Homo sapiens: one gene and its partner. The protein of the gene in region 1 purifies or fractionates together with the protein of each later gene. This does not show direct contact. Each region holds a gene or a part of one and is shown in the gene's direction. Other genes may lie near its edges.

The links. Proteins that work in one complex are often made in the same cells at the same time.
Region 2: the proteins of DCAF13 (region 1) and DDX18 purify together in Homo sapiens (affinity purification with mass spectrometry; 2 studies listed by BioGRID, with this or other methods). This does not show direct contact.

The regions. Positions count from the first base shown.
Region 1 is NC_000008.11:103,418,236-103,421,988, forward strand, and holds part of DCAF13 (DDB1- and CUL4-associated factor 13), read left to right. Parts: intron 1-2,028; coding exon 2,029-2,228; intron 2,229-2,739; coding exon 2,740-2,847; intron 2,848-3,753. UniProt on the Homo sapiens protein: Part of the small subunit (SSU) processome, first precursor of the small eukaryotic ribosomal subunit.
Region 2 is NC_000002.12:117,824,642-117,828,394, forward strand, and holds part of DDX18 (ATP-dependent RNA helicase DDX18), read left to right. Parts: coding exon 1-67; intron 68-298; coding exon 299-460; intron 461-805; coding exon 806-958; intron 959-1,627; coding exon 1,628-1,741; intron 1,742-3,753. UniProt on the Homo sapiens protein: ATP-dependent RNA helicase that plays a role in the regulation of R-loop homeostasis in both endogenous R-loop-prone regions and at sites of DNA damage.

The DNA.
Region 1 (3,753 bases):
CCTGGGAATGCAGTGGCTCACATTCATAAACCCAACACTTTGGGCGGCAAAGGTGGGAGGATCTCTTGAGCCCAGGAGTTCGAGAGTAGCCTGGGCATCATAAGGAGACCCCCGTCTCTACAAAAAATTTAAAGATTAATGGGGCATGGTGGTGCATGCCTCAGGTCCAAGCTACTTGGGAGGCTGAGGTGAGAGGCTAAGGTGGGAGGATCACTTAAGCCCTGGAGGTTGAGGCTGCAGTAGGCTATAGTCATATCACTGCATTCCAGCTTGGGTGACAGAATGATACCGCATCTCAAAACAAAAACAAAAACAAAACACAAAAAACTAGAAATAGAGAGTTGAAAGATGAGTAAGTGTTGCAAAGAGATGATGAGTAGGACTTTGAGTTTTGGTAGTAGGGAATATGGAAGATGGAATACATAAGAATGACCTAGGCTAGAGCTTTGTTGAATGTTAGATATAACACCATTACCAGGGAGTCAGAAAGAAACAGCAGGATGAAGTCATGGGGTAAGAAGATGCATTTACTTTTTACTCACTGAGTTTTTTTAGACATACGAGCTTAAAATTACTTTCTAAGCATAATTATATATATATATATATATATATATATATATATATATATATATTTTTTTTTTTTTTTTTTTTTTTTTTTTTTTTTTTGAGATGAAGTCACACTCTGTCAGCCAGGCTGGAGTGCAGTGGCGCGATCTCGGCTCACTGCAACCTCCACCTCCCAGGTTCAAGTGATTCTTTTGCCTCAGCCTCCTGAGTAGCTGGGACTGCAGGCACATACCACCCCCACCGCTGGCTAACTTTTTGTATTTTTAGTAGATGGGATTTCACTGTGGTAGCCAGGATGGTCTCGATCTCCTGACCTCGTGATCCGTCCGTCCCGGCCCCCCAAAGTGCTGGGATTACAGGCGTGAGCCACCACGCCCGGCCCTAAGCGTGATTATTAACCAAGACAATGTGTTTAGCAGCGTATCAGGACAGTTAAAACATAGATTCTGGAGCCATACTGCCTTGGTTTGAATCCTGGCTCCACCGTGTCGTATTCGAGTTACTTAACCTCTTTATGCCTCAGTTTTCCCATCAATAAAGTGTGAGATAGTAATAGAACTTAACACATAGGATGCTGTGGAGATTAAACGGTTAAGGTTTTTGGAACAGCGCCTGGCACTTGAACTCTTATGTGAGTCTTTTTTAAGTAAGTAAACAAACATAGAAAGTGCTCAGTAAATGATAGCTATATAATATCATCATAATCACAACTTCGTGTGTCTATCAGCACAGTATTTAGCACCAGAGATTAATAATGTTCCCTGCCCTACAGGAAGCTTAGAGTTCTGTTGAGCAAACATCTTGCACATATTTTGTCCCAGAAACTGTGCTAGGCATAAGGAAGTACAAATGAAAAGTGTATTGGAAGCCCTGACAGTGAACACTTACAACCCAGTTGAAGAGGGTACTAGGACATATAAAAGGGAGGCCGGGCACGGTGGCTCATGCCTGTAATCCCAGCACTTTGGGAGGCTGAGGCGTGTGGATCACGAGGTCACGAGATCGAGACCAGCCTGACCAATATGGTGAAACCCCATCTCTACTAAAAATAGAAAAATTAGCTGGGCGTGGTGGCATGCGCCTGTAATCCCAGCTACTCGGGTGGCTGAGGCAGGAGAATTGCTTGAACCTGAGAAGCGGAGGTTGCAGTGAGCCGAGATTGCGCCACTGCACTCCAGCCTGGTGACGGAGCAAGACTCCGTCTCAAAAAAAAAAAAAAAAGGAAATGCTGCATGTATATATACCTAGGGTCTAATTGTTTTGCAAGATGTATGCATCCCATGATTTTCCAGTAATTTCAGAAAGATTTCTGAACAACAGGTCTTCTACTTTTGTATTCTTAGTGTTAGGCATAGAACAATGTCACTAACTAAATGCTTATTGAATAACAGAGTGATTAGCTGAGGAAGACTGCAGGAAATATTAAGTGTGAATTATTAAGAAGGATCATTCTTATTTCAGTTCCAAGAAACTATGATCCTGCTTTACATCCTTTTGAGGTCCCACGAGAATATATAAGAGCTTTAAATGCTACCAAACTGGAACGAGTATTTGCAAAACCATTCCTTGCTTCGCTGGATGGTCACCGTGATGGAGTCAATTGCTTGGCAAAGCATCCAGAGAAGCTGGCTACTGTCCTTTCTGGGGCGTGTGATGGAGAGGCAAGTGTCAATCTAGATGATATTTTCAACTAAAAGTAGTTATATTACAAATGTTTTCCCTTTAGTTTTTAGTTACTGTAGGTTTTACTTTATTGGATTTCAATTTACTTCTCAAGACTAAATTTCGTTAGGAATACTGTTTAGTATTTTCTTCTTTAAACCTAAGAAATTATAAATGCAGTAGTTTAAGGATCAATTTGACAGTAAATTAAATAATCATGTTTATAATTAAAGTATTTAAGTATGAGTTTTTTCACAGATGTTGTCAACACCTAATTTCCTACTATGGCAAGTGAAAAAGTTTTGTAACACTTTAGAATCAACAGAGTATTTGTCAGGTTGTATTTTTTGCTCATCAGTATACTTATCCATATGCATTGCATTGTTTTAATCCAAAGGATTTTGGTTTTAGCTGCCCAGTAGAGTGATTCGTAGCCTTGTCAGTGTTGAATTTATCCTGAACATTTTACATTTATAGTTCACTGAAATTTCCTGGTATGCCTTATCATAGGTTAGAATTTGGAATCTAACTCAGCGGAATTGTATCCGTACAATACAAGCACATGAAGGCTTTGTACGAGGAATATGTACTCGCTTTTGTGGGACTTCTTTTTTCACTGTAAGTATAATACCATTAAGTCATTAAATTTGATCAACATAGGTAAGAATAATCTAATTGAATACATTTTTTTTCAAGTTCATTTATTTGTTCCTAGGCCCTTTTGGAGTTTCACAATGCAAAATAGCTTATTAAACCTTGAAAATTACTAGTTTTCTTTATATAATTCAGCCTTCCCCATAACTTAACATGATTAAACTAATATTCAATTTACCACAAAAGTGGAATTAATGAGAGGTAAGTCTAGAAAGAGTTTGGCTTACTCTGGAGGATTTTTGATGCTAAGATGAGTAATTTGTACTTTTGTTAGTCAGATAATAAGGAATCATCGAAGTTTTGTGCCTGTGTGTGGCAAGATATCCGGAACGTAAAATTTACTCTCTGTTTTTAAATATACAGTTTGGTGGCATCCAGTACATTCACATCACTGTGCAACCATCACCACCATCTGTCTTCAGAACTTTTTCATCATCCCCAGCTGAAACTATAGTCATTAAACAATAACTCCTCTGTCCCCTCAGTCCCCAACCCCTGGTAACTACTATTTTACTTTTTGCCTCTGTGATTTTGACTATTCTGGGTACCTCATATAAATAGAAGCATATTTTAAAGAATTATACCATTTTGTGTATGTGGAATAAGGCTTTTGGGTCTGGCTTATTTTACTTAACATAATTGTCTTCAAGGTTTATCCATGTTGTAGTACATGTCAGAATTTCCTTTCTTTTTATGGCTAAATAACATTCCATTGTATGTGTCACATTTTGTTTATCCGTTCATTCATCAATGAGCATTTGATTTGTTTCCACCTTTTGGCTATTGTGAATAGTGTTGCCGTGACCATTGGTGTACAAATACCAATTCAAGTTCATTGAAAGTCTTTTTAAACAAGGGGAACGACAAAAT
Region 2 (3,753 bases), on another chromosome or scaffold:
AAAGGAGCCATTGTATGTTGGCGTTGATGATGATAAAGCGAATGCAACAGTGGATGGTCTTGAACAGGTACTTTTTATCAATAACTGAAAACTGTAGGGATCTTACTTGGTGTTTTTATGTAATTGTTGGAAGGATCATTCAGAAAGCAAATGGGTTAATGAACTTTTAAAATGCTGTAGGTGAGGCATGACAGTTTACACACTGTGTTTATCAGTGCTCTTGATGAAATTACACAAGTTAGGAAATGGAAAATGTCCACTTGGTTCATTTGTATCTGTCTGCTTAAACGCTTTCTAGGGATATGTTGTTTGTCCTTCTGAAAAGAGATTCCTTCTGCTCTTTACATTCCTTAAGAAGAACCGAAAGAAGAAGCTTATGGTCTTCTTTTCATCTTGTATGTCTGTGAAATACCACTATGAGTTGCTGAACTACATTGATTTGCCCGTCTTGGCCATTCATGTAAGTGATGATGATGAGCTCATTGAAAACAGGGTATGCTTATTAAATCCTATAGATTGTAGGATTGGAGGTATTGCCCTCTCCTGGAAACATTGTTCTGAGTAGTTTGATCACCACTAGATGATGGATCCTGTGTGGGGGAGCGCTGCTGGGTGTGGAGGGGTATGAGGACTTTCGAAGAGTGCAAGACACCATCCTCCTTGAGGGGCTTGCGGAACAGTTGGGGAAATAGGACATAGGCCAAGGGATGAGCTCGAAATAGGGTAACAGTTCCACAATTTGGGGGTTCTACTGCTAGTCTTCCTCAAGATTCCAGCTCTAATGGATGTTTTTATTTAATTCTAGGGAAAGCAAAAGCAAAATAAGCGTACAACCACATTCTTCCAGTTCTGCAATGCAGATTCGGGAACACTATTGTGTACGGATGTGGCAGCGAGAGGACTAGACATTCCTGAAGTCGACTGGATTGTTCAGTATGACCCTCCGGATGACCCTAAGGTAACTGGCATCTTTGGAATATCTTCAGAATGACTCTGCATTAAAAGTTCACTTATTCTCCCAGTTCCCTGACGGAAACTGCATTCCACATTCAAGGTAAAGATCCCTACTATACAGTGACTGCAGTATTTCTCTGGTATTGAAAAGTACTTAAGGCTTTTCAGGGCTCAAACGGGCTGTGCCAGAGGATTGAAAAGGATCAGTGGGACTTAAGTTATGAAAATGAGATCCTTGGAATGATCTCTTAAGAACAGCAGATGCCTGAAGGAAATAAAATTGCTTAAGGAAGTAGATAAACTTCTGTAGTATATGTGGTAGAATAAGCTTCATTGAGAAGTATTTTCAACAAACACTGGATTAAAGCCGTTTTGATGATGAAGCACACATAATACTCATTTTATTAGATCGCTGTTAATGCAAACATCATGTCCAGCCTTTTTTTTTTTTTTTTTTTTTTTTTTTTGGGCCTCAATCATTGGCCTATTGGGGGTGATGTGCACAGAGCGATTGCTGGCCCAGCTTTGTGGGGGTGTGGTGAAGGTGTGTGTGGCCCAGCACCGTGGGACTACACCATCTCAGTACAGACATGCACATACTCAGGATGCAGATACGCAAATGGGCTCATGTGGAAGTCACTGCGTTAACTCAGATTTTCTTTCTCCACCAAAGGAATATATTCATCGTGTGGGTAGAACAGCCAGAGGCCTAAATGGGAGAGGGCATGCCTTGCTCATTTTGCGCCCAGAAGAATTGGGTTTTCTTCGCTACTTGAAACAATCCAAGGTAAAGATCTGTACTTGGAGAAAGATTTCTCTTGGTGTAGGGATTGTTAGCAAGCAACATTTCTACATGTGTCAGAGGAGTCTCGAGTCTGGCCAGTGCTGTTACAACCATTCTTATGGCAATTAAGCAAGTAAGGTTTTATGTACTTCTAGCCCAAGAAGTGAGCACAGAAGGAACTGCCCACATGGCTCGGCTTTCTAGCTCTGTTACCCAGCAACACCTCTGTGTCCCAGCCTCTCCTTTCCTGTTCCCTCCAGCCCTCTTTGAAACCTTCTCCACTCCTTTGAAGCTCCCTCACACCTAGTCATCTCTGCTTCTGCTCCCCTTCTTTCCTCTTACCTCATGTGAAGCAGTGGGGAATCCTTGTTCGCTCTAGCCTCTGCCTCCTCCCCTGCCCTCTGTCTCCTATTCATCAACTCTTGGCCTACAGTCTCTTCCTTGCGGTTGGCGCTTTACCATCTCAAATTTCTCACTGTAAAAAAGTAACTTCAACCTTAAACCTGTTCTTCTACCCCTGCCTGCAGGAGCTACTGTCTGTTGCCTTTCCTCAGTCAGCCTTACTGGAAAAATGGCTTATATTCTTGCCATTTACCTCCCTCTCAGTCCCTAACCAGCCTAATTTGGCTTTAGCTTTCTACTATCACACCAGAATTGAATCCATCAGGACCCTAAGTGGCCTCTTCATTGCTAGGCCATGTGGGGGATGCATATCAGGCCTTCTCCTGCCTGACATTTACATCCTCATTGGCCTTTCTGGCATAGTCTTGATGATAGGCTTCCTCTACCCTGTAACTGCAGGCAGTTCCCTGAAATTGCTCTACAGCTTTTGCACACTTTGTCCAGAATGCTTGGTTTCAGCTCGCCTCTGTCTTTGCTGGGAAGCCATCGCTGATCTCCTGCCTCCTTGTTCCCACAGCACAGGTGCTCATCAGGTTGACATTTCTTTCTTTCTTTCTTTTTTTATTATTATTACACTTTAAGTTCTAGGGTACATGTGCACCATGTGCAGGTTTGTTACATATGTATTCATGTGCCATGTTGGTGTGCTGCACCCATAAACTCGTCATATACGTTAGGTATATATCCTAATGCTATCCCTTCCCCCTCCCCCCACCCCACGACAGGCCCCGGTGTGTGATATTCACCACCCTGTGTCCAAGTGTTCTCATTGTTCATTTCCCACCTGTGAGTGAGAACATGCGGTGTTTGGTTTTCTGTCCTTGCAATAGTTTGCTCAGAATGATGGTTTCCCGTGTCATCCATGTCCCTACAAAGGACATGAACTCATCCTTTTTTATGGCTGCATAGTATTCCATGGTGTGTATGTGCCACATTTTCTTAATCCAGTCTGTCATTGATGGGCATTTGGGTTGGTTCCAAGTCTTTGTTATTGTGAATAAACATACATGTGCATGTGTCTTTATAGCAGCATGATTTATAATCCTTTGGGTATATACCCAGTAATGGGATGGCCGGGTCAAATGGTATTTCTAGGTCTAGATCCTTGAGGAATCGTCACACTGTCTTCCACAATGGATGAACTAGTTTACAGTCCCACCAACAGTGTAAAAGTGTTCCTGTTTCTCCACATCTCCTCCAGCACCTGTTGTTTCCTGACTTTTTAATGATCGCCATTTTAACTGGTGTGAGATGGTATCTCACTGTGATTTTTATTTGGATTTCTCTGATGGCCAGTGATGATGAGCATATTTTCATGTCTGTTGGCTGCCTAAATGTCTTCTTTTGAGAAGTGTGTGTTCATATCTTTCGCCCACTTTTTGATTGGGTTGTTTGATTTTTTCTTGTAAATTTGTTTAAGTTCTTAGTAGATTCTGGATATTAGTCCTAGCCAAAATTGACAAATGGGATCTAATTAAAGAGCTTCTGCACAGCAAAAGAAACTACCATCAGAGTGAACAGGCAACCTACAGAATGGGAGAAAATTTTTGCAATCTACCTATCTGACAAAGGGCTAATATCCAGAATCTACAGGTTGACATTTCATTACTTAT